Linked DNA regions of Homo sapiens. The protein of the gene in region 2 interacts with the protein of the main gene of each other region in a biochemical or structural test. Each region holds a gene or a part of one and is shown on either strand. Other genes may lie near its edges.

Region 1 (4,076 bases), on a different chromosome or scaffold from region 2:
AGGAGATCAAAACCAGCCTGGCTAACACGGTGAAACCCCATCTCTACTAAAAATACAACAAATTAGTCAGGTGTGCTGGTATGCACCTGTAGTCTCAGCTACTCAGGAGGCTGAGGCAGGAGAATCACTTGAACCCAGCAGGCAGAGGTAGCAGTGAGCTGAGATTGTGCCACAGCAGTCCAGCCTGGGTGACTGAACGATATTCTATCTCAAAAAAAAAAAAAAAAAAAGTGGGTGAAGGATATGAACAGACAATTCTCATAAGAAGAAATTTATATGGCTAACAAACATAGGAAAAAAAGCTCATCATCACTGGTAATTAGAGAAATGCAAATCAAAACCACAATAGATACCATCTCATGCCAATTAGAATAGTGATCATTAAAAAGTCAGGAAACAACAGGTGCTGGAGAGGATGTGGAGAAATAGGAATTGTTTTACACTGTTGGTGGGAGTGTAAATTAATTCAACCATTGTGGAAGACAGTGTGGTGATTCCTCAAGGACCTAGAACTTGAAATACCATTTGACCCAGCAATCCCATTACTGGGTATATACTGAAAGGATTATAAATCATTCTGCTATATAGACACATACACACGTATGTTTATCGCAGCACTATTCACAATAGCAAAGACTTCAACCAACCCAAATGCCCATCAATGATAGACTGGATAAAGAAAATGTGGCACATATATACTATGGAATACTATGCAGCCATAAAAAAGAATGAGTTCATGTCCTTTTCAGGGACATGGATAAAGCTGGAAACCATCATTCTCAGCAAACTAACACAGGAACAGAAAACCAAACACTGCATATTCTCACTCATAAGTGGGAATTGAACAACGAGAATATATGGGCACAGGGAGGGGAACATCACACACCAAGGCCTGTCGGGGGGTGGGGGGCAAGGGGAGGGATAGCATTAGGAGAAATACCTAATGTAGACGATGGGTTGATGGGTGCAGCAAACCACCATGGCACGTGTATACCTGTGTAACAAACCTGCACGTTCTGCACATGTATCCCAGAACTTAAAGTATAATAATAAAAATTTAAAAATTAACATATCTATTATTTCAAATAGTCACTCGTTTGTATTTCTATGTGTGGCAAGAGCAGCTAAAATCTAGTCATTTAGCAAAAATGCCAAATACAATACCTTGTTATTAACTATCGTCTTTGTACTGTACATTAGAACTCTAGATTTGCTCATCCTACTTATCTTTCACTTTGTATCTTTTGACCTGCTGCTCTCCCCTACCAGTTTTCTCTCTCTCTCTCTTCTTCTACCCCTGGTAACCACAGTTTCACTCTCTATCTCTCTGAATTCTATATTGTTAGTTGTTTTGTTGTTATTTTAGATTCCACATATAAATGAGATTGTGCAATATGTCTCTGTGTCTGGGTAAGTTTACTTAGCATAAGTTTCTCCAGTATCTTCCATGTTGTGGCAAATGGCAAGATCTCCTTTTTTAAGTCTGAATTATATGAGTGTGTGTGTGTGTGTGTGTGTGTGTGTGTGTATCTCACAGTTTATCCATTCATCTGTCAATAAAAACTTAGCACTTGGCACCTGTAATGGGAATGGGAGCCCCAAAGATCTTCCAAATATCACTGGGATCACCCCTCCACTGTTCTAGTGAATAGTATCTGGCTTCTACCTACACATATATATTTCTTATTTAAACAGTAGCTTGGCCATACCTTTAATTTTCTTTCTTGAACAGCCTTTTATCTTCACATGGCCAGGCTGATAATTTTCTAAATCTTTAAATTTCACTTACTTTTTGATTATACATTTTATCTTTTAATTCATTTCTCTCTTCCCGTATTTTATTATAAGCAGTCAGTTCCCTGAACACTTCACTTAGATATTTATTTCACCAAACATCCTAGTTCATTGCCTTTAAGTTCTGCCTTCCACAAAACCCTGGGACATAGACACAATTCAGCCATATTCTTTGCCACTTGATAACAAGGATGGCCTTTGATCCACTTTTTTTTTTTTTTTTTTTTTTTTGAGATGGAGTCTCACTTTGTCACCCAGGCTGGAGTGTAGTGGTGCGATCTTGGCTCATGGCAACTTCCGCCTCCCAGGTTCAAGCAATTCTACAGCCTCAGCCTCCCGAGTAGCTGGGATTATAGGTGTGCACCACCATGACAGGCTAATTTTTGTATTTTTGGTAGAGACGAGGTTTCACCATATCAGCCAAACTGGTCTTGAACTCCTGACCTCCAGTAATCTGCCCACCTCGGCCTCCCAAAGTGAATGGGATTACAAGCATTGAACCACTGCGCCTGGCCCCCTCCAGTTTTTAATTATTTCTCATTTTCATCTGACACCACATCAGAATGGCACTCACTGCCCACATTTTAATTGATATTGTAATTACAACCACTAAAATAATCTCTAAGACTGAGGTTCTGTCTACAGCTCTCTTCTTCTTAGTCCTTACCAGAATCGTCTGTTAGAGACTAGCCTCTACCCATTACCCAGTTCCAATGCCACTTCCACATTTTTAGGTGTTCGATACAGCAGTACTCCACTTATTGGTACCAGTTTCTTTCTTAGTCCATTTGTGCTGCTATAACAGAATACCACAAACTGGGTAATTATAAAAAATAGAAAATTATTTCTCACAGTTTTGGAACTGAGAAGTCCACGATCAAGGTGCCACAGGTTCAGCATCTACTTAGGGTCACGTTGCTTGCTTCCAAGATGGTATCTTGTTGCTGCATCTTCCAGATAGGACAAACTGTGTCCTCACATGGTGGAATGAATGGAAGGGTGAAATAGTCCAAATGTCTTGTGAAGCCTCTTTTATAAGGACCTTAATTACATCCATGAGGGAGGAGTCATCATGACCTAATTTCCTCTTAAAGGCCCAAACTATTGCATTTGAGATTAAGTTTCAACATGCATTTTGGAAAGGACACAAACATTCAAGGCTTCAAACCATAGAAACCATATATATTTGGGTTTATTTCTGGGCTGTATATTTTTGTCCCACTGGTTTATATGTCTGCTTTTATGCCAGTATTATACTGTTTTGATTACTATAACTTTATAATATACTTTTAAATAAAGAAGCATAATGCTTCCAACTTTGTTCTTGTTTCTCAGAATTACTTTGGCTATTCAGGGTCTTCTGTGATTACACGTGGATTTTAGCATTTCATTTTATATTTCTGTGAAGATGGATTGTGTTGAATCCTTATACTGCTTTTAGTAGCATTGATAAGTATAGGAGGCAGGGAAATTCTGTGCAGAAGAAGGCAGGTCCCCAGCAAGGGCCCCACCGTCAAGCCAAAAAGCCTGATAACTCAGCCCAAAGTGAGAACATACATCCCTGTTTTCCTGCTTGAATGTCGCCTTTTCCAAAACCACCCATATCCTGCCCCACCCTCCATCCTATGCTCATAAACACCCCAGGCTCAGCCAGCAGAGAGAGGAGATGCAGCTGGATGTTGAAGACTATGGTTGTATGGCAGACAGAAGCAGCTTGACATGAGAGGGACAGCTTGATGGTGTAGCATCTAGTCCTCGGCCAGATTCCAGGGGAAGATTACCTTCCCGCTCCATCCATCCCCTTTACATATTCCCTTCCCACTGAAAGCCACTTTCACCAGCACTAAAATCTCTTGCATTTACCATCTTCAGTTCGTTCATGCAACCTCATTCCTCCTGGATGCTGAACAAGAACTTGGGTGCCATGAGTGTAGGTGCAAAACACTGTCACACTGACCCTCCACTGAGCTATTAACACTTAAGCTATCCTTGGATGGCAAAGCTAAAATGGGCAGTGTAACACTTCTTCTGGGTCTTCAGAGATCACGGTCACCCTCTCCCTAGATGCTGCCATGGGACTGGTATGGAGTTTGCTCTTGCCGGCACCCAAAAGTGCTTGCCCTGAGTCCTGCACCTGCTCACCTGTGCTGCCCCTCCAGCAAAGGGTGGAGCAGCAAGTGAGTTAAATTTGCCTCTGCTGGCACTCGTGCAGTGCAGTTCCCACCTGTGTAGGTGTCAGGGAAACTTCAGCATACACATTTTAACAATATTTCTTCTAATGT
Region 2 (3,500 bases):
CTTTTGCTGTGCAGAAGCTCTTTAGTTTAATTAGGTCCCATCTGTCAATTTTGGCTTTTGTTGCCATTGCTTTTGGTGTTTTAGTCATGAGGTCTTTGCCCATGCTTATGTACTAAATGCTATTGCCTAGGTTTTCTTCTAGGGTTTTTATGATTTCAGTTCTAACATTTAAGTCTTTAATCCATCTTGAGTTAACTTTTGTATAAGGTGTAAGGAAGGGATCCAGTTTCAACTTTCTACATATGGCTAGCCAGTTTTCCTAGCACCATTTATTATATAGGGAATCCTTTCCCCATTGCTTGTTTCTGTCAGGTCTGTCAAAGATCAGATGGTTGTAGATGTGTGGTGTTATTTCTGAGGCCTCTGTTCTGTTCCATTGTTCTGTATCTCTGTTTTTCTGCCAGTACCATGCTGTTTTGGTTACTGTAGCCTTGTAGTATAGTTTGAAGTCAGGTAGCATGATGCCTCCAGCTTTGTTCTTTTTATTTAGGATTGTCTTGGCTATAGGGGCTCATTTTTGGTTCCATATGCAATTTAAAGTATTTTTTTCCAATTCTGTGAAGAAAGTTAGTGGTAGCTTGATGGGGATGGCATTGAACCTATAAATTACTTTGGGCAGTATGGGAAAATGGCCTAAATTTTTTAAGCCCTCTCCAACCCATACACTTATCCACTGGCAGAGGTAGACGGCTTCCAGACTCTAGTGTTTGAGCAAAACCTTTGCCAATCACTGGCTAACCATGAAACTATACAGACATGGGCAACTTCCCAGAAGCCAGTATTAAAATAAAAATTTGAATGGAAAAAAAAAAAAAAAACACTTGAGCAGAGAAATCAGTGGCTACACAGCACAGGGGAGGTAAATTCTGCAGATTACGTTCAGACAAGTTACCTAAAAAGAAGTACAGGAAACAAAAAAGAAAAAACCCTACAAGAAAAAATTGTAAATCCAGAGTTGCTACAATACATTATCTATGAGGTTCAGTTTTCAATAAAATAGTTCAAAACATGCAAAGAAACAGGAAAGTGTGATACATATTTGGGAGGAAAAGCAGTTAACATAAATTGACTTTGAGGTGAACTTAGCAAAGACTTCAAATTCATTATTATAGATATGTCCAAAGAATTAAAGACAACCATGTTTAAAGAATTAAAGTAAAATATAATGACTACAAAAAAAGGAGAATCTTGATAAAGAAACAAAACCAAACATATAAACAAAAGACAAACAGAAATTCTAGAGTTAAAAAGTACAGTAACCAAAACCAACAAATCACTACAGGGGCAACAGCGGTTATGAGATGACAGATGAATCAGAGAACTTACAGGCAGCTCAATACAAATTATCCACTTTGTAAGAAAAAACGGAAAAAAAAAAAGACTACAGAAAAATAAACAGAGCAGCAGAGACCACCACAGGGTGGAATCAGTGTTAAGGATAAACATATAGACCAATGAAACAAGAAAGTCAGGAAATAAACTCTTATATTTATGGTCAATTAATTTTTGACAAAGATGTCATGGTAATTCAGTGGGTGGAGAATAGTCTTCAACAAATGATGCAGGAACAACTGGATACCCACATGCAAAGCAAAGAATGAAGACCCTTACCGTATACCACACATAAAAAAATTAACTCAAAATGGACCTAAACATAAAGCTTAAAAACTATAAAACTTCTAACAGAAAACAGAAAAAAATATCTGTGACCTTTGAGTTAGGCAAAGAATTTTTACATATAACACCAAAAACACTATCCATAAAAGAAAAACCACACTACTATATACCGCTAGAACAACTATAATCAAAGAGACTGATAATACAAATATTGGCGAAAATATGAAAAACTGGAACCTTCAAATATTGTTGATGAAAATGTAAATTAATACACAAACTTTGGAAAAAAGTTGGCAGCTTCTTAAACAGTTCATGTTACCATATGATCCAGCAATTCCACTCTTTGAAATCTACCCAAGATAAATGAAAACATATGCATATGCCCATCCAATGACTTGCATTTAAATGTTCTTCAAAATGGAAACAATCTAAATGCCCATAAAGAAGTTATCTCATGCTATACAGTTATCACAGTTTTGTTCTCTTTGAACTTGGAAAACATTCTTAAATGACTCTTTACTTAATTATCTATTTAAAAACAAGGCCAGGTGCAGTAGCTCATGCCCATAATCCCAGCACTTTCGGAGGCTGAGGCAGAAGGATTGCTTGAGCTCAGGAGTTTGAGACCCTGTCTATCCTAAATATCAAAAAAGTTAGCCAGGTCTGGTAGCATGCACCTACTGTCCCAGCTACTCGGGAGGCTGGGGCAGAAGAATTGTTTGAGCCTGGGAGACAAAGGCTGCAGTGAGCTATCACAGCACCACTGCACTTCAGCCTTGGTGCAGAGCAAGACCCTGTCTCAAAAAATAAATAAATAAATAAACAAACAACAAAGTTTTCCAGTGAAAATTCCTGATAGAATAAAAGCATTTAATTGCTTGCTAATTCCCTGTGAAGACCCTCCATTTTTGGAGCATATTTCTCATTCAAAGTTGGCTTATTTAAGAGTTCAACCTGCTAATGAAACTGTTGGAAAACTAGTCCATACCTGTCCCTAATTTCTGAATTACATGTGAAGGAATAGGGCACTGACGACTCTCACGACCATAGTGCTTCTCAGAGGAATACCGACGGATTATTAATCTCACTGTATGAGGCTTCCTTCCATCTTGGCATACTCTAAAAATAAAGAGAAAGTGGAAATAAGGAATTAGAAAAGTATTACCTTTTTAAATTATGTAACATCTCATTTATCTAAAGGTGCCAGATTTTGTTAAATATGACAATTATACATATAGCAGATAACAAAATAGTAAGCAATAAAGGTCCCTGAGTATCCAAATAATCATCACAAAGTCTATGCACTAAAACTCTGAATGTTTAGATGTCAAGCTCTCAGGCCTCACTCAGAATTGAGTGCTGTCAGAAATAGAAGAGATATAAGATACAATCATAACAAACTGTTTTATAATACAGATCCAAAACAAAACTAAAAGCAACCAATTTTTTTTTTTTTGAGATGGAGTCTCACTCTGTTGCCCAGGCTGGAATGTGGTGGCACAATCTCAGCTCACTGCAACCTTCACCTCCCAGGTTCAAGCAATTCTCCTGCCTCAGCCTCCTGAGTAGCTGGGACTACAGGCATGTGTGACCACACCTGGCTAATTTTTGTATTTTTAGTAGAGAGGTGGTTTTGCCATGTTGGCCAGGCTGGTCTCGAACTCCTGACCTCAGGTGATCCCCCCACCTCAGCCTCCCAAAATGCTGGGATTACAGACGTAAGCCAACACACCTAACCAAAAGGCAACAAATTAAAATCAGCAGGAAATTTAAGAAACTGAATCATTCACTGACAAAAGCAAATAAGTGAAAAATAACAAAAGAACTTTTTTCAAACTTTTTTCTTACGAGATTACCAAAAAAAAGATTTTTTTTTACAAAAT
Region 3 (3,500 bases), on a different chromosome or scaffold from region 2:
TTTCCTTGCTTACAGTTGTCAGGATCGTGTATACGCAATAGTACAAAATTACTGTAATCACAAACCAGGCGGCAATATTTTATTTGCATCAGAAGGTCTGATTCTGGCATTTCACTCGCCTATCTTTTGAAGACTGCAAATTGAACCAAGTTTTCTTAGATCCTGTGAACTCTTGCTCAGAGTTACATAGCCAACCAGTGTACCTATTTTTTTTTTTTGAGACGGAGTCTCGCTCTGTTGCCCAGGCTGGGGTGCAGTGGTATCATCTCAGCTCACTGCAACCTCCACTTCCTGGGTTCAAATGATTCTCCTGCCTTAGCGTCCTGAGTAGCTGGGATTACAGGCATGTGCCAGTAAGCCCGGCTAATTTTTTTTTTTTTTTTGTATTTTTAGTAGAGACAGGGTTTCACCATGTTGGCCAGACTGGTCTCAAGCTCCCAACCTCAGGTGATCCACCTGTCTCGGCCTCCCAAAGTGCTGGGATTACAGGCGTGAGTGACTGCACCCAGCCCAGTGTACCTATTTAAGAACAGAGAAAACTTTCCACTTTTAGCAAATGGAATATTGCCATTTATTCCTGAAGAAAATTGTCTGTGTTTTTAATGCCCTATGGCCGTTTCTCCACACCAGCTATTCCTGTGGTAGGCTTTTTCTCTCCAGGATCATTCTAACATGATTTTATAGGAATGGTCATAAGAGGAGGGCCCATCACTTGCTGCTTATTCACACTGCGTATTCATCCTAGAAAAATGCAGTGTGCCGGGCATGGAGACCCCTTATTTTAAACTTTTATTTTAGGTTCGGGGTACATGTGCAGGTTTGTTATACAGGTAAACTCTTGTCACAGGGGTTTGTTGTACATATTATTTCATCACCCAGGTATTAAGCCTAGTACCCAAGTGTTATGTTTTCTGCTCCTCTCTCTCCTGCCATCCTCCCTCCCCGCTCAAGTAGACCCCAGCGTCTGTTGTTTACCTCTTTGTGTTCATGTGTTCCCTCATTTAGCCCTCACTTACAAGTGAGAACATGCAGTATTTGGCTTTCTGTTCCTGCATTAGTTTGCTAAGGATAATGGCCTCCAGCTCCATCCGTGTTCCTGCAAAAGACATGATCTCATTCTTTTTTGTGGCTGCATAGTATTTCATGATGTATATGTACCACATTTTCTTTATCCAATCTGTCATCGCTGGGCATTTAGGTTGATTCCATGTTGTCGGTATTGTGAAGAGTGCTGCAATGAACATTCATGTACATGTGTCTTTATGGTAGAATGATTTGTATTCCTCTGGGTGTATTCCCAGTAATGGGATTGCTGGGTCAAATGGTAGTTCTGTTTTTAGCTCTTGGAGGAATCACCATACTGCTTTCCACAAGGGTTGAACTAATTTACACTCCCACCCACAGTGTATAAATGTTCCCTTTTCTCTGCAACCTCGCCAGTGTCCTGTTCCTGTTGGAAGGGCTTGAGGTGTTGCCCAGAGAGCCACTGACTGCAGCCACTGCATTTCTGACTATTTGATATCATTGTTTTGGGAAGTGAGTCTTTCCATTTATCCTGCTCTCAGGGTACCTGGGCAGCTGCAGGATGATCTTACCCGCAGGGAGCAATGATTCATCCTCAGGGACTTTGGCAGTTTTTCTTGTGCAAGGGCAGCTTGCACTCCCAGGTCAAGGGTATTAGTGCCCTCATTGCATCTAATCTCAGGTTTCCCAGGTCAGATCTCCCTCCCTTTTGCCACTGTGATTTCTTCCTATTCAAATCATGAATCATAAAGAGGAGCTCACGGAAAATCTTTTTATAGAAATGGACGTATTATTTCTATGCCTGCCTTTCTATTTTGGAGGCAGGGAGAAGGGGAAGATGCAAGGCCGGGTCACAGCCGGACAGGATGGGGGCTCTGGTGTCAGCCCTTACCTGCATTTAAAACTGAGATAGCTTTTTCTGACACAGTAAAAAATAATTTGTGCTTTTCAAGAAGTGGAATGTGACCAGGCGTGATGGCTCACGCCTGTAATCTCAGCAGTTTGGGAGGCTGAGGTGGGCAGATCACCCGAGGTCAGGAGTTTGAGACCAGCCTAGCCAACATGGTAAAACCCTGTCTCTACTAAAAATATAAAAGTTAGCTGGGTGTGGTGGCAGGTGCCTGTAATCTCAGCTACTTGGGAGGCTGAGGCAGGAGAATCACTTGAACCTGGGAGGCGGAGGTTGCAGTGAGCCGAGATCGCACCACTGCACTCCAGCCTGGGCAAAAGAACAAGACTCTGTCTCCAAAAAAAAAAAAAAAAAAAAAAAAAGTGGAATGCATTCAAACACAAAACCGCCCTAGCTAATGAAAAAAGGTGTTATCATTAAAAATTATGACCGATTAAAGGGTGAGTTTTAATTATTCATCCAGAGGAATTAGCCACCTTTCGGCTAAAGATGACAGACAGTGGGACAGTTAATGCCTTTGCGTGCACCCCTTTCAGAGAGTGCTTAATGGGACTTGGATTTTCTTTTCTTTTTGATAGGTTGCTGAAAAGCCAGGAGTCAAAATGACTGAGCGCTTTGACTGCCACCATTGCAACGAATCTCTCTTTGGCAAGAAGTACATCCTGCGGGAGGAGAGCCCCTACTGCGTGGTGTGCTTTGAGACCCTGTTCGCCAACACCTGCGAGGAGTGTGGGAAGCCCATCGGCTGTGACTGCAAGGTACCTGCTGCGGGCCTCTGCGGGTCCCCGGCGCTCCCCTAGGAAACACGGGTTTCTCTGTGGTTTGTGCTGAAGCCCTGATCCACCACTGAAGTCTGTCTCTTGAGCCCCCTCTGAGGGGCGTGGACCCTGCGTGTAGCCTTTCGGAAGCTTCTTCCCTCTAGCGAATGTGATCTCTGCCCACAAGCACTGGGTGAGGGCCTTGCCAGGACTTTTGTGCTTAGTATCTCTAAGTACATTTTCTGTATTCTAGCAATTAGTGCCCTTATCTAACTACCCAGCTGCCTACCAATACTGGAACTTTCTTAAGGGTGGTGCTCTCTTCCTCTTGTCTGTTTGCCCCGTGGTGAGTAACGTGGAGCAGGTGCTGTGCTCAGTCAATATTTGATGAATGAATGTGTACATGAGAGAACCAGAGTTGGTTCCTGGATAAATGGGCACATAAAAGCACAAAGTCCTTGGAAGATTGTGAGCTCTTTTCCTTTAATGAGAGAAGGACAGGATTTGTATTGTTTCCTTTCAATGGGGAAATGTGTTCATGGCTCTCCTGGTATGTCACAGCGTGGTTCAGCAAAGACCACTGGTCACTTGTACCAACTGCCCCGTGGTTGAGGGTGGTGAACCCTGACCTGCGCTTCTCAGCAGACTCTTGTTCCAACCTGGATTGCTGAAGGACACCCTGGGGGACCCATCCATAGCTCTGAACTCTCTGATACCTTCACCCGCAAACGGCTTCTAAAACACTCCAGTGAAACCCCTCATGTGGCTGTCATCCTGAGTGCCGTGAAACTGGCTACAAAATGGGATTC
Region 4 (2,750 bases), on a different chromosome or scaffold from region 2:
TGCAATGAAATACTTCCCGGCAAGGAGAAGGAACAAACCACACGCACACATCATGAATGACTCAAAAGCATTAAGCTGAGGGAAAGATGCCAGACTCAAAAGGCGACATCAGTGTGACTCCATTTATATGACATTCTAGAAAAGGCAAAATTATAGGATCAGATAATCAATCAGGGTTGCCAGGGAAAGAGGGCAGGAGAAGGGAATTTTTTGGAGGGTTAAAAACAGGTTGATCTTGGTGATGGTCACAAGACACTAAATTTGTCAAAATTCACAGAGCTGTATATTTCCAAAGGGTGAATTTTACTGGATGTCAATCATACCTCAATAAACCTGGGAAAAGGTGGTGGCGATGGGCCTTGTAGGGATGGCAAGGATTATGGGGATAAGACGATGTCCAGGCTACGTGGGGGGGCAGCTGATCTGTACCCCACTTAACATTAGAAGTGCTCTCTCCGACCTACACAAGGAATGCATCTTGAGCCTTCTGTTTAAACACTCCTTGTCAAGACTACCTGCAGCTGGAAGTAAAATCACCTAAACAAGCCAAGGTCGCTGATGTCCTTCGAATGTTATGGCTTGTATTTCCAAAAGGGACTTTGGCTCAGCCCAGATTTTTCTGCATCCATCCACTCATCTAGTAATTGATTGGTTTTCACAAAGGGTAGGGAAAGAAACCCCTGGTTGGTGAATTCGTTGGTACACTGTTTCGGTGTGCCCAGCTGTTTATCAATCCTGACTAGCAGAGCACTGCCTCCCACCGCAGAAATTCTCCTTGGCCAACAGGGTGCTGAGTGGAGGTAGAAAGGAGGCCCAGGGTGGTCCCACTGACAGAATCTCAGGGCCGCCATCCCCACGGTCCAAGGGGCCTATGTGTTGCCACTGACTGAAAGCACTAGAAAGAATAGAGGGTAACAAGTGGCTCTTCCTGGAGGTTGTCACAGCAACCAACTTGGAACACCATTTGGCTTAAGGAATTTTTTTTTTCTTTTTAAATCAGGCTTTCACAAACAGATCTTGTGCATCAGTCTCCTGGGTGGAGGCAGGTAGAAGGGGCTGACTTGTTCTCAGAAATGGAAGGGACATTCTCAAGAATAGCCCAGACCCGCCCACTTTGAATAAACCCAGCTAAGTCCTCACCTAAGCACCAAGACATAAAACAAAACAACAACCCGGATAGCGTGCTTGCCTCTCCAAAGTGCAGTCTTTTATTTTCTCAGTTGCATCCTAACCTTGATTTCAACCAGAAACGGGCCCCTGTTCATACGGATAGGGGTTCTGGACTGTTGACTCTAGCCCTGGTCTTAATTCACTGGCAATTTCATAGCCTCACTGGTTACCCTTGAGCTTCACTTTCCTATTTGCAAAGAGTTATTTATAATTTTTTTGAGATGGAGTCTTGCTCTGTCACCCAAGCTGGAGTGCAGTGGCCCGATCTTGGTTCACTGCAATCTCCGCCTCCCAGGTTCAAGCGATTCTACTGCCTCAGCCTGCCGAATAGTTGGGACTACAGGTGTGCACCACCACATCTGGCTAATTTTTTGTATTTTTAGCAGAGACGGGGTTTCACCATGTTAGCCAGGATGGTCTCGATCTCCTGACCTCGTGATCTGCCCACCTCGGCCTCCCAAAGAGCTGGGATTACAGGCGTGAGCCACCGTGCCCGACCCTTATTTGTAAAGAGTTATTTAAAGCAAACAGAGAAATTTCTGAAATTCGAATTGGATATGGGCCGTGAGGGTCTGGTGACCAGGTGATTAAAATCTTGTTGCTGTCTACCTTCCATCCAACAGGTAAATGCCTCACGACGGTGGTTTATATTATAATAAAGAATCCCAGAGGGTTAAGTGTGGAGAGGGTACAATGTTCTTATTATACTCTTCTCAGTCGACATGGAGAATAGAGGAGAGCAGAGGAATGCCCATCTTACATACAACTAGAGCGCCGCTTCTCAGCATGCCTGGCTTGTCTTGAGCATTCGCTGAATGAATGCAGATTAATCAGAACAACAGACTTACCTCTGAAAACTTAAATTCTGTAGAGTGCCTATGTATCAATGCCAAGGTTGCTGACCGGTAAGACCCCTGAAAACGAGCGATCACGGGCTTCCCTGACGACAGGGCCATTATAGTGTCCTCAGATTAGATCTTAGCACAATGGCTTTAACCTGCTTGATGAATGAATAACAGAGGGAAGAAAGAAAGGAAGTACGTGAAGGGGGTAAAGAGAAGGAGGTGAGGGGATGAGGGGGGAAAGAGTGACCTCCAAAAATGGACTGGCCCAAACTGGGCCAACCTGAGCTACCCTGGAAGACGCAAGAGGGCTCACTCTATCCCAGGGATGAACAGAGGACTCTGGAATCCTCAGATGTAATGGAAAAGTCAATGAGCCATATTGTACTCAAAATATCTTGTTAATAACAAGGCTATTGGCTTTGAATGTTTGGAAATCATCCACAGAGTAGTTTACTAAGCCACAAAGCAATTACCACTAGCACCCATTTTTCATAAAGAAACCAAGAAATAATATTCTAAAATTGGTAGCTGGTGTCATGACCCAACCCCAGATCTGGACAGAGTGGTTCTCCATCCCATGGACAGATCCTACCAGGAGGTCTTCACGTAGGTGAAGGCCTTTGTGCTGACCTTTTTGGTTGCAATGTTTCAAGAACAAGAGAAAAGTGACAACGTTTGGTTTACTTTAGTATATTAGGCATTTTTCTAATGTGAACTATACGAAAGCAATTCTCA
Region 5 (3,500 bases), on a different chromosome or scaffold from region 2:
CCATGCCTGGCTATTTTAAAAATTTTTTTGTTGTAGAATGAGGTCTCACTATGTTGCCTAGGCTGGTCTGGAACTCCTGGGCTCAAACGATCTACCCTCCTCGGCCTCCCAAGTGTTGGGATAACAGACGTAAGCTACCACACCTGGCTGACATTTTCAAATGGTTCAGAAAAAAATGATATGTGTATATAAAGCAAATATAGCAAAATTTTAGCAGTTGGTAAAAGTGGATGAAAGATCTACAGGTGTTCATTGTATTACTATTTTTTGGTAGGCTTTAAAATTTTCAAAGTAGAAAATTGAGGAAGAGAAAGAAATTCATGGGAATAATCACCAAATTTAGGATAGTAATGAACTATCCTAAATACACAGGGGCTTCCACAATATTGATAATTTATTTCTTGAGGTGGGTGGTAAAGACATGAATATTCATTGTACTGTCATTTATACTTTTTATGTAGATTAAATATTTCATAATGAGCTTAAAATCAGTTAAAGAAGAAAAAAAGAAGATTATTATTTTTTAAGCAAAAGGATTTCACCTTTGTAAGACTTACACAATTTTCACATAGCTTCATTTCTACAATCACAACAATCCTGAGGTAAACAGGCAGGGTCTAATCATTCTCTTTTTACAGAGGGAGAACCAGCAACTTAGGGAAATCAAAACGGGGACACTAACAGGATTTCTGTGGAAATTTAAGTAAATGAGAATTTATGGTGAATTTTTTATTCTAAAACGAATACCTCACCTTGGCCAAAATGGGACATTACCCAAGGTCCCCTACTAGGCCAGAGGAGAAAAGGAAGGACTTACCTCCTACAGAGGCACAAACAAGGCAGACTAGGACCCAGCAGTTGCCTAAGGCCCAAGGGTCTCCAGTTAGGAGAATGTGAAATGCAGGGATGTGAGACTGGCCTAAGGTATAGGAAGAGCGGTAAACAGAAGAGAAGAGACGAGGAGGGGGAAAAGCAAGAATTATTAAACGTGGTCAAGGAGCGAAGAGCACTATGAAGCCTCAGGATTTCTTCAAGGGATACTGCTGTGCCAGGTCTAGAGGGCAGAAAGATACAACCACGAGACCCCAGGACTACCAAGCTGATGGGATTACCTAGCCTCTGGACAGCACCTTCTGATTGGAAGCAAGGAAGCACACTAGAAAGGCTGCAGTACAGAAGGCTCAGAGACAGTCAGTAGGGAGTAGAAGGGCCTCTGCTGTTCTGGGAAGATTCTTACAGCATAAACAAGCTCTTACTGTGCCTAAGAGAAAGGGAGAGGGAGGCAAGGAATGTATCATGGCCTTAAGAACTTTCTAGAGGTTCATATTTATTGGCATTTGACCTAGAGTCCTTGCCATGGGCAAGGTGCATCCCTGGGCCATGGATAGGAAAATCAGCATCCTACTTTCTCTTCAGTTCGATCTGTTAATCCACCAACCCAAATCCCTCCCACCCGCACCTGTCATCCAAGGAAGAGAAAATGGTTCAGGGACACGATGTGCTGCAGCTGTGTCTCTGGATTTGTAGGTCTCTCCTCGACTTTTCAGCTCCTACACGATTCCTTGGGGCAGGTGACCAGTGAATGACACCGCATATGTACCTGGCTTAAAGTTACTGACTCGCTGCCACTTGGAGACCTAGCTGTCCTCTGGACTCATCATTGCAATGATTCCATCAAAGGAAGAGCTAGTGCAGTCATATACCATCTCAGTTACTCTTCGTCTGTAGATAGGTGTTACAGTTGTCAGAACCTTCATATTCAAACTGGTCTATAGTCTTGACCAGCAAACACAGCCAACAAGCCTGCAGATGCCCCAGGTCCTTCAGCACCATCTCCAGGGCCATCTTCTCTGATCAGGAAGATCATTTTAAAAGTCAATTTATAATTAGTGATTTATATGTTGATGTCTTTTCTGACATAATTTATTATAGCATGTATAGCTCAGTGTGAGGCCTGTAGTAATGGTTATAGGCTTTGGAGACTGACCAACATACCTACATTTAAATCTTGATTTGACAGATTTATAGCTAATGTAGCAATGGGTTAGTTATTTACCTTTTTCAAGCTTCAGTTTCTTGCTCTGTAAAAAGGAGATGACACCAAACCCACATGGTTGCTAGAAGGATTAATTTATGCTATAGATGTTTCATAAAGCTTTTAACAAAATACCAGGTGAGTACTCAGGAATTGTTAGCTATTTTCATGAGCATTAACAATTTTAGAAATAAGATTGACTTTTATTTAGACAATGAAGAATAAAATACATCAATATCATATTTAATTTCTTTGAAAAGCAACAATTTTTCTTCTAGCAGCCTTTTGAGTTTACTTTTAATTATTTATTTGTATTTTTTACAGGTTCTTGAGTCCTGAATTCATTCCTCGAAGGGGAAGAACAGATCCTCTGAAATTTCAAATAGAAAGAAAAGATATGTTAGAAAGGAGAAAAGTACTCCACATTCCAGAGTTCTATGTTGGTCAGTAAGAGCTGTATGTTTTTATTATTAGTAATTAGGATGGCTAGTTTGTGATTGGATGGTTAGTTTTCTTAAAAAGCAAAAGAAGATTGTTTTTTACATATCTGGGTTATGCTCATATGAAGTATTTATTCCTACATTAAAACATTTAGGAAGTTAAGTTATCTAGAAATGCTATTTGTTTGTTTCTGCATCTTATATAAAGTTTACTTCTCAGCTGGGTGTGCTGAAAAAAAAGTTCACTTCTCTTTTGAATTTGTAGGAAGTATTCTTCGTGTTACTACAGCTGACCCATATGCCAGTGGAAAAATCAGCCAGTTTCTGGGGATTTGCATTCAGAGATCAGGAAGAGGACTTGGAGCTACTTTCATCCTTAGGAATGTTATCGAAGGACAAGGTAAGTTTTATTTCATCATTTTCATTGTCTAGAAAATGTTATCTCAGGATTCCTTTTTGTTTCTGCATCCTGGGATAAGAAATCTGAAATTTGAAAGTAAAAGGAGACTCTGAGGGAAGATGTGGAGCCTGTGGCTTTAGAATGGATTGAGATTTGAAGTTAATGATTAAATATGGTTGATGGACTTCTTTCTCTTGAAGGCTTCTTATGTTATTGGAACAACAGTCATTAGAAGTAGACTTTGCAAACCATGGCAACATCAAAGAGGGGAATAAATTACTATAAAGCAGTATGGGGATATTTGTTTTAGGAGCAAATAACCCATGAGTAAAACTTTAAGACAAACCTTTAATGTCTTCATGAATTACTTGCTCCTAAAATGAATACCCACATTTTACTTTATGTTATGACACAAAACAAAATTATCACTGTCTTATATGACTTGGGAGGAATTTTAAAAAGGCAAAATTGTGTTTATATACTATGCCTAATAGAGGAACAAGGAGTAAAACTCTAGCAAGATTATTAATTAAAATGGCAGGAACAATTACGTTTATCAAGTTGTGTGCTTCATGAAGTTCCAACAACAAAGTATTCTTATTTTCAAAGAAATTGAAAATGTGAA
Region 6 (4,288 bases), on a different chromosome or scaffold from region 2:
ACTTTTAATTTATCTCAATGCTAAATGTGGAAGAAATTAATTGCTTATAATTTTTGAACTGAGTTTTAAAGTTTTTATCAAAAAAAATTCTCTTGCCTATCATGGCTCAACCAGAATCGTGTTCACGCCCTTCATGAATTAGAATGAGTCTGTTCCTATTGCTAACATATCTGTCTTCCCAGGATCCGGACTTGTCTTTCCTTCTTCAATATCTCACCCCTGTACGCCTCAAGTAAAGTTGGCAGGTTTTCCTTTTCTACCCTAAAATGGGAATGGAGGGGGCCTTCATTTTTATTTTAATATCACCTATACTCTAATGGGGTTATTAAAAACTGACATTTCTGATAGGTGAACATAAAATGAAATGTCATCAGCTGGAGATACAGAGGGATGTGTTTAGAGGTGAAGTGAGTTTGGAATGGTTTTTTTATTTTTTTGAAGTTTACATCAAAGTGATTTTGTATTTTTACTGAATTGGTTTATTTTATCAGATATTAACAAATTATAATTGTGTATGTTTATGGGGTACAAAATGATGCTGTGATATGCGTATACAATGTGTCATGACTGAATGGAGCTAATTAACCTACTATCCAATACTTAGCATTTTGGAATGAGTTTTGAAATACTTCATCAAACAAGGCTTCCAAAACTCTGTGGCCTCCAAAACTCTACCAAAGGTAACTGCAGGTGGTGACTGGGTGGGGGGTACACAAAGCTTCAGTGCTATTCTCTGTCTGTCACTGTGTACAACTGAAATTTTCCATAATAAAAAAGTTTAAAAATAGGTTTCTCCATCTTTTCTTTCCTTTTTTTTTTTTTTTTTAACAAGGCCCTCTTGATTATGAGGATTCCGTTTTCAGGCAGGAAATGGGGACAGGGTGAGAGAGGGCGCCGATCAGCTACTGTCAGGCTTGCTCCTTGCAAAGGGGCGGGCGGTGGAGAGAGAGGGGAGGGAGGAATTAAGGGGATCGCGCTTCCTCAGGGCCCACAGGCCTCATACCTGTGGTGTGGACCTCCAAAAGAACGGGCCACACCACCGCCAAACACAGAGCACGCAATTCAACTAAAAATTCGACTTCAGTTTCTTCCTGTCCGCGCCAGAACGGACATCAGACTGCCCCCCGCCCGCCTCCTAGCAGCTCCTTTTCACTTCGGCTGCTGCCAGGATTTCGCGACCTAGACCCCTCTTTGAAGACCACTTCCGATCCCCGACGCGGCAGCCCTTGAGGTCGCAGCCTAGCACGGAGAAGTTGGCCGGCTCTGGGGGCTATGAGGCTGCTCACCCCACAGGCGCAGGTCTACGCAGCACACACACCACCTCCTTCTTTGGACTCAGACCAAACACGCTGGGCTGTAGGAGGGAGACGGACAGATACACGGACTCGCGCGCGCACGCCTCACCAACTGATTCCAACCAGAAAACGGAGCCACTGTGTAACGCCCAGCCCCCCTCCCCTCGACACCCCCAATCAGCCAAGCCTTCGGCCGGTGTCTGCTGCACTAAACACCAGGACGTGGCCAGGGAAGGCGCAGGCATCGGTCCGAGCCAGGAGCGCCGCGGCGCCAGCGCATCTGACGTCGCAGGAGGACTGTGCGCACCTGAAGTCTGGGTGCCAAGCGCCCAAGCCTCTGCGTGCAACGAAACCCCCAAAGGAAAACAGGACTACCAGAAGACCCCTTCCTCTCGTCTTTCAGAAACGCCAAGCGGCCCCTCTGGCCGCCTCCTCAAAGCTCGGCTGCCAGAGCCACTCTAGTAGGGTCTTGCAAAAAGCGCATAGGGACAAAGCCCCTTCCCTAAGAAAAGTGCCCAACTCATCCAGTGAGCCATTCCTTCCTCCTCACTGCCCAGAGAGTGCACATGAAGAGGCAGAAATCACGACTAGGAAAAAGCGAGATTCAAATTGGAACCAAAAAAGCGTATGTGCTCGCTCCCATCTCGGCGCCAGGGCTGTGGCTCCCAGGGCTGCAGGCTGTCGCGGCTGCCAGGGGCCAGACAGCTTTTGAAGGCAGGTCTTGTCCTGGCTAGAGGAAAGAGGCTCCAGGAGTCTCTGCTTCCGCCACGGTCGCCCGTCGGGATTCCCCATCCCAAGCGCGCTTGCACCTTGCCTGCCGCTCCGCTCGGAGAATTAGTCTGTTTCCCTTCCTACTCCCAAACAGACCTAGGTCCCCAGCTCCGTGGCCGCCCGGCTCACCAGCCCTGGCTGGTCTCCTTCGGGTCACTCCGAGGGGCAGCCCGAACCCGCAGAGCCTTGGCCCGCCGCGCGCCCTCATGGCCCTGCTGGGCAGCCTGGCTCCGCTACGCTCTCAGTTCTCGGTCTCACCAGCTCCCATCGAATTCGCACAGCAGCCCCTTCGCGTCTCCCGGGGTGGCAAGGCACCAAGGTGCAGCCCAGGCCAGCATCGACCCCTTCCTGGGCATTTTCTCTGCCGGCTCAGCTCCCCCTCCCGCCCTGCGACCCCGTGTCTCCCAAGTCTCGTCGCGGCGACCACCCGGACTTACCGCGGGCGCCACGCCGCCGCCGGGTCTGCGCGCTCCGAGGCGGAGCCAGGACTAGGACACCCGCCAGCGCAGGGCAGCCTCCAGCTCCCGCCGCCAGCTCGCGGCCCCTGCCGCGACCCCGCCCACTGCGGGCCCCTCCGCCCGCCCCCGCGGCCGGGAGGTCTGGACTTACCTCCGGGACAAGGTGACCCGGCAAGTGCGCCCAAGCGGCCGCCCGCGACTCTCCCGAGCGAGCGAGCGTGCGGGGCGGTGCGGCGCCCGCCTCTGCTCCTCCGCTGCCAGGCTCTCTCCTCCTCTGCCCTCCCCTCAGCGCCGCTCTGCTCCCCACGCCTCTCCCCGCCCTGCGCTCTCCGCCTGCGCCCCCGGCTGCCCCGAGCGCCGGGCGCGGGGCAGCGGCGGCAGCCCGAGCGGCGGGGAGTCGGGAGCTGCGGCGCCGGGGCGGAGCCCAACCCTCTCGGCCCCCGGGAGAGGAAGGGGTGCGGGGAGACTCTCGTCGCGCTCGCCTGGCCGGCAGGCTGGGCGAGGGGCGCCCTGGGGCGAGCCGCTCCTCTTCGCTTGCCGAGCCTGCCGACGCGCGTGCTGGAGGCAGCGGGCGCGGGCCCCGGGGGAGGAGGGCAGGGAAGAGAAGGAGGGCGCAGCCCGCGCGAAGGTGGCCACCAACTTTGGCCCAGACCAGGGAGGCCCTAGCGGGGGATCGCGTCCAGATGGTGGCCCGCGGCCAGTGTCTGACAATGTGAGGGCCACAGAGGCTGGGGGCGGGGGATAGCTGCGGGGGACTAGGAGGACAGGAATTTGCTGCCCGACTAGAGGAAGGGATGGCTCCCCTCGGTCCTAAAGGCCTCCCCAGGCTGCGGTTCGGTTTTGAGGTTAAAAATGACCCAATTTATGGATCCGGCGAATGTTCAAGTCCTGACCAGCTAAGCCCTGGAGGAGCAAGCGGGCGCGGAGTTCAGACTCCAGAGACCCCCTCAGCCCTGAGCCAGCCTGTTGTTGGCCCATGGCGGGCCCGCCCCAGTTGGAATTGGAAGGAAACTAGGGCGGTGGTAAGACAGTCTGCGTTCTAGGAGCGGAGGAGGTGGTGTTTGCAGTGTAGATTTCATAGAGAATCAACTCTGAAAAAAAGATTTACCAGAAAGGGGGTCAAAAGTTATTTAGAAAAGCATCTGTGCGCCCCCGTTTCAACACTAGGCAGAGGCCCCAGTCCTGCCACCCGCAGGCTGGTACACTGGTGGTCAGAGAAGGTTAAGCTCCAGAGTTCCATGGCTCCCAACCTTCCTAGAGCCCTCCCTCCTGCCTGGTAACCCACCATTGCGCTGCGTCTTGCCCAGGTGTCCTGGTGGGCAGGGGCAGGAGTTAAAGGTGGTGCCAGGAACAAGAGGTCCTTCCTATATTCCTTTCAGGGGACGTGGCTTCTAGGGAGCCTCCGCAGCCCAAAGAGAATGCTGAAATGCAGAGTGCCAGAAGGAGGCATTTGAAGGAGGCGCGGATGAGTGGAACCAGTACTATCACCTGAATTCCATCCCCGTCTTCATGTCTGCAGCCCCGCGAGACACACCTGATGTTTCTTCCTTTAGGTCCCCAGAGCTGCAAGGCTGTGGTCTGGAACACTCAGAAACGGGCACTGTTCATTTCTCCCATCTAGCAGAACTTCTCAACTTGGAAGAACATGCCACCACACTTTAATAAAGCAGCTTACCTTTCCGGAGTCCTTTCCTGAATAAAGCAGTTTCCCATCTAAGCCATTAGGTTGAGCAGATACTATTAGACCCATTTGAGGTGGAGAGT
Region 7 (3,500 bases), on a different chromosome or scaffold from region 2:
TTTTATTTATAGGTCCCAATTTCAAGGTAAAATGTGCTTCACTCGTGCTAGAAGTGAAAGAATATCCTAGAATTATTATCTAAACTGATTTTATCAAATTAGCTTTCCCAAGTAAAAACTAGAGTTATTTAAGTAGTTATTTGAGTAACTTCTTAGCAATGTAGGAAAAAAATAATAGGAATTAATGTTCTCTATGAAATAAGAAAAAGGCTTAAATCTATTCTGTACACTATATTTTACATTTATTATTTTCAAGTTTAACAGAATGACCACACACATGCATTTAAAATTTGCAGAATTCTATAAATATATTTCTACACATTTAAGGAACTATAAACTATATTAGTATGTATGTATTATTAAATTTAGTAACTGCTAGGTGTGGTGGCTCACACCTGTAATCCCAACACTTTGGGAGGCCGAGCTGGGAGAATCACTTGAGGCCAGGAGTTTGAGGCCATCCTGGGCAACATAGTGACATCCTGTCTCTATATAAACACACACACACACTCACACAAACACAGATTTAGCTGGGTGTGATGGGGCATGCCTGTGGTCCCAGTTACTCTGGAGGCTGAGGCAGAAGCATCATTTTGAGCCTGGGAATTTGAAGTTACAGTAAGCTATGATCACACCACTGCACTACAGCCTGGGTGACAGAGCAAGACCCTGTCTCAAAAAAAATAATATTATCATTTACTGAACATTTACTATTGGCCAGACACTACTCTAAGTCCTTTACATGTATTGACTTATTTCATTCTCACAACCCTACAAAGCAGGTATTTTTTAATTTCCATTTTGCAGACAGGAAAACTGAGGCATATGGAGGTTACGTAACTTGCCCAAGGTTATATACGTTACCAGTGGTAAAGCTAGAACTCATAGATAGTTTTGCTCTAGAGCAGGAATGTCCAATCTTTTGGCTTCTCTGGGCCACACTGGGAGAAGAATTGTCTTGGGCCACACATAAGATACACTAACACTAACGAGAGCTGATGAGCTAAAAAAAAATTGCAAAAAAACTCATAATGTTTTAAGAAAGTTTACAAAATTTGTGTTGGGCCACATTCAAAGCCATCCTGGGCTGCATGTGGCTCACAGGCCACGGGTGGGACAAGCTTGCTCTAGAGCCTAAGATTTTAATAAGTACCCTATTCTTAGTACTATTAATAATTTAAACATCATTTAATTTTCTTTATAGACATAATAATGTATATTTCCTCCATGCCACAGAGAAGGGAATTGGTTATGAAGGCAGAGTATTACTGACCTGAGCTTTCACTGCCTCTGTCACTGCACTCGCTGCATCCACAAGGTCCCTGGTCTTTGCAGAACAAATGTCTAGTCCTAACTTTTCAGCAGTAACAAATGCATAAAATGCACCGCCATATGCAATGTCCACCATCACCTTTCCATGTCCAGGAACATCCACCATGAGATCTAAAAAAAAGATGTGTTTGGAAAGAAGATGTGTTTGTTAATAAGTATTTTAGCAATAAAATTCAAAGGATTTTTAATATGTTTATTTTTCAAGAGGGATGTTCTTTTCCTATCATAAAAATAATGAAGTAAAAATCCGTTTTTTAAATGAATAAGCATCGAGTGAATAATAGCTAGATGCATCATTCTATTTTTAACTTGATGATTGCAGAAGTTATAAACTAAAGCCATGCTTTCCCTAACTCATACAGACATATTCATTAACTTCCCTGAGGATCTTTTCTAGGAAACACCCCTGAGGCCGAGAGAGGGAAACCCAAGGGCATCCCTGTGAACACTAAGAAGGAAAATGTCTATTCCCCACTTGTACTATGAGAGATGGTTTAAAATAGTGAGGGTCTTGGATCCTATTTACAAATCAATTTTCTTCAGCCGTAATGTCAAAACATAAATTTTAATAAAAGATTTTTCTATATAAATTATATACACTTATCTACATGTTTTCATCTCCTTAAGGTATCCTGCAGGCAAACACAGAAAAATGCCATTGTAGAATCATTGACTGCTACAGCATCATTTTGCACCAGGGTTTTTATTTGAGCATTTTAAGTCTCAACATCCCCAAAGTTTCACCTGAAGGTCAGTAGTTTGAAATCTTGAATCTGTATTTCCAAAGAAAGGGGGCTGGGTGATGTTTATTTCGCCCCTTCTCAAATTTTCCTCTTCCCTAATTTAAGCTAGCTTGGTGATCACTGCCTTTTAGGGAAGCCTATGGCAGGGGAGAAAGCTTGTCTTTCATGTTTTTATTTTAGGGAAGCCTAAGCTCTCAGGGGAAAGACATCTGTTGGCAAAGGAGTGTCCTGAAGGGAGAAATATTTCTCCTAGAGATAAATTTTTTCTCCCTTGAGAAGAGTGGAGGCTGAAGGTCCTTAGTGCAGAGAGGACGTGTGTTAACTTCCCCCAGGGCACCACAGGAGCAGGAGTGAAGAAACAGAGGATGGGGAGGCAGTGCAGAGGGCAAGGACCAGGTAGGGTGGGGCAGCCAATGCTCCTGCTCCACTTTGCTGGTTAACTGTGTAAGCTGAGGACTGAAGTGCCATCCTCTCCAAGGCCACAGCACTTTTAAGAAACCTTTGCTCACACATATCAGGAAAGGGGACAACACATGGAGTGATGAGGCTAAGTGAACCAAAAGGACAGAGTAGAGTTTCAGCTTCAGAAATTAAGTTTTGGGAAAGAAAATATATCTTGTGTTCCTGAGTTTTCATACAAGGTCATACAAAGATATCAGTATGCTATCAGTCCACAGAAGGCTATCAGTATGCTATTAGTCCACACTAGTCCACAGAAGCCCTTTTAACCCATGATGTGTTAAAACAGAGCAAGTTTATAATCAAAAGAGTAAAACATGCTGTGGATTGTAACAACAAAACTGAATAAAAAATGTCTTTATCTTGATGCTGGCGCAACATGAAAAGCAAGTTTAATGAAAAGAGAATGGGCAAGTTGATAGAAATGAGGGACTGCTGGAAGGTGGAAAGCTAAAGTGAGGGTGAAGATCAGCACTTACCAGGAGACACAGGTGACGGTCCCAGGGTTCAGTCGGCCTGCCCTCTTCCCTTGATTGTAACAACTAAATGGGGCATTGGCCACCAATCCCGGGACCAGGATGAAATTGGGAAGCTGGTTCAGGAGAAGTCATCCCTGAGCCTACAATCATTTCCCTGGCCCAACCTTTCTAGAATCTTGGGTCTGGTTTTCTTAGGGTGGGCAGTTGGGTAGGGTGCTACACCTCACTGAGTTTCAGTTTCCTTTTCTTTAAAATGGACCAAATTTCCTTTAAAGTTACTCTTGTCCACCAATTATCTGTGACTATTTCATTTTTTAATCACTAAATTACTAACATTAAAAATTAAGATATTTATTTCACCCATGAGTACTTCCTATGTGGCAGGTCTTTACATACACTAGCCCCTTAATTCATTACATTAGTGCCTTAATTACTACAGCCCTGAGAGGTAGGTACTGTTTTACTTACTATCTTTACATTATTCCCT

The links.
Region 1: the proteins of POLI (region 2) and MS4A6E form a complex in vitro, tested with the Homo sapiens proteins (one large-scale study listed by BioGRID).
Region 3: the proteins of POLI (region 2) and FHL2 form a complex in vitro, tested with the Homo sapiens proteins (one large-scale study listed by BioGRID).
Region 4: the proteins of POLI (region 2) and GAS7 form a complex in vitro, tested with the Homo sapiens proteins (one large-scale study listed by BioGRID).
Region 5: the proteins of POLI (region 2) and MRPL19 form a complex in vitro, tested with the Homo sapiens proteins (one large-scale study listed by BioGRID).
Region 6: the proteins of POLI (region 2) and SYNDIG1 form a complex in vitro, tested with the Homo sapiens proteins (one large-scale study listed by BioGRID).
Region 7: the proteins of POLI (region 2) and L3HYPDH form a complex in vitro, tested with the Homo sapiens proteins (one large-scale study listed by BioGRID).

The regions. Positions count from the first base shown.
Region 1 is NC_000011.10:60,325,979-60,330,054, reverse strand, and holds the start of MS4A6E (membrane-spanning 4-domains subfamily A member 6E), read right to left. Parts: upstream 2,801-4,076; 5' UTR 2,647-2,800; intron 1-2,646. UniProt on the Homo sapiens protein: May be involved in signal transduction as a component of a multimeric receptor complex.
Region 2 is NC_000018.10:54,286,517-54,290,016, reverse strand, and holds part of POLI (DNA polymerase iota isoform a (long)), read right to left. Parts: intron 2,737-3,500; coding exon 2,606-2,736; intron 1-2,605. UniProt on the Homo sapiens protein: Error-prone DNA polymerase specifically involved in DNA repair. Plays an important role in translesion synthesis, where the normal high-fidelity DNA polymerases cannot proceed and DNA synthesis stalls. Favors Hoogsteen base-pairing in the active site.
Region 3 is NC_000002.12:105,385,552-105,389,051, reverse strand, and holds part of FHL2 (four and a half LIM domains protein 2), read left to right. Parts: intron 1-2,511; 5' UTR 2,512-2,535; coding exon 2,536-2,691; intron 2,692-3,152; exon of another isoform or gene 3,153-3,500. UniProt on the Homo sapiens protein: May function as a molecular transmitter linking various signaling pathways to transcriptional regulation. Negatively regulates the transcriptional repressor E4F1 and may function in cell growth.
Region 4 is NC_000017.11:9,912,857-9,915,606, forward strand, and holds part of GAS7 (growth arrest-specific protein 7), read right to left. Parts: 3' UTR 1-2,750. UniProt on the Homo sapiens protein: May play a role in promoting maturation and morphological differentiation of cerebellar neurons.
Region 5 is NC_000002.12:75,649,783-75,653,282, forward strand, and holds part of MRPL19 (large ribosomal subunit protein bL19m), read left to right. Parts: intron 1-526; exon of another isoform or gene 527-1,866; intron 1,867-2,359; coding exon 2,360-2,478; intron 2,479-2,740; coding exon 2,741-2,875; intron 2,876-3,500.
Region 6 is NC_000020.11:24,468,141-24,472,428, reverse strand, and holds the start of SYNDIG1 (synapse differentiation-inducing gene protein 1), read right to left. Parts: upstream 2,801-4,288; 5' UTR 2,676-2,800; intron 2,557-2,675; exon of another isoform or gene 2,196-2,556; intron 1-2,195. UniProt on the Homo sapiens protein: May regulate AMPA receptor content at nascent synapses, and have a role in postsynaptic development and maturation.
Region 7 is NC_000014.9:59,477,909-59,481,408, forward strand, and holds part of L3HYPDH (trans-3-hydroxy-L-proline dehydratase), read right to left. Parts: intron 1,444-3,500; coding exon 1,274-1,443; intron 1-1,273. UniProt on the Homo sapiens protein: Catalyzes the dehydration of trans-3-hydroxy-L-proline to Delta(1)-pyrroline-2-carboxylate (Pyr2C). May be required to degrade trans-3-hydroxy-L-proline from the diet and originating from the degradation of proteins such as collagen-IV that contain it.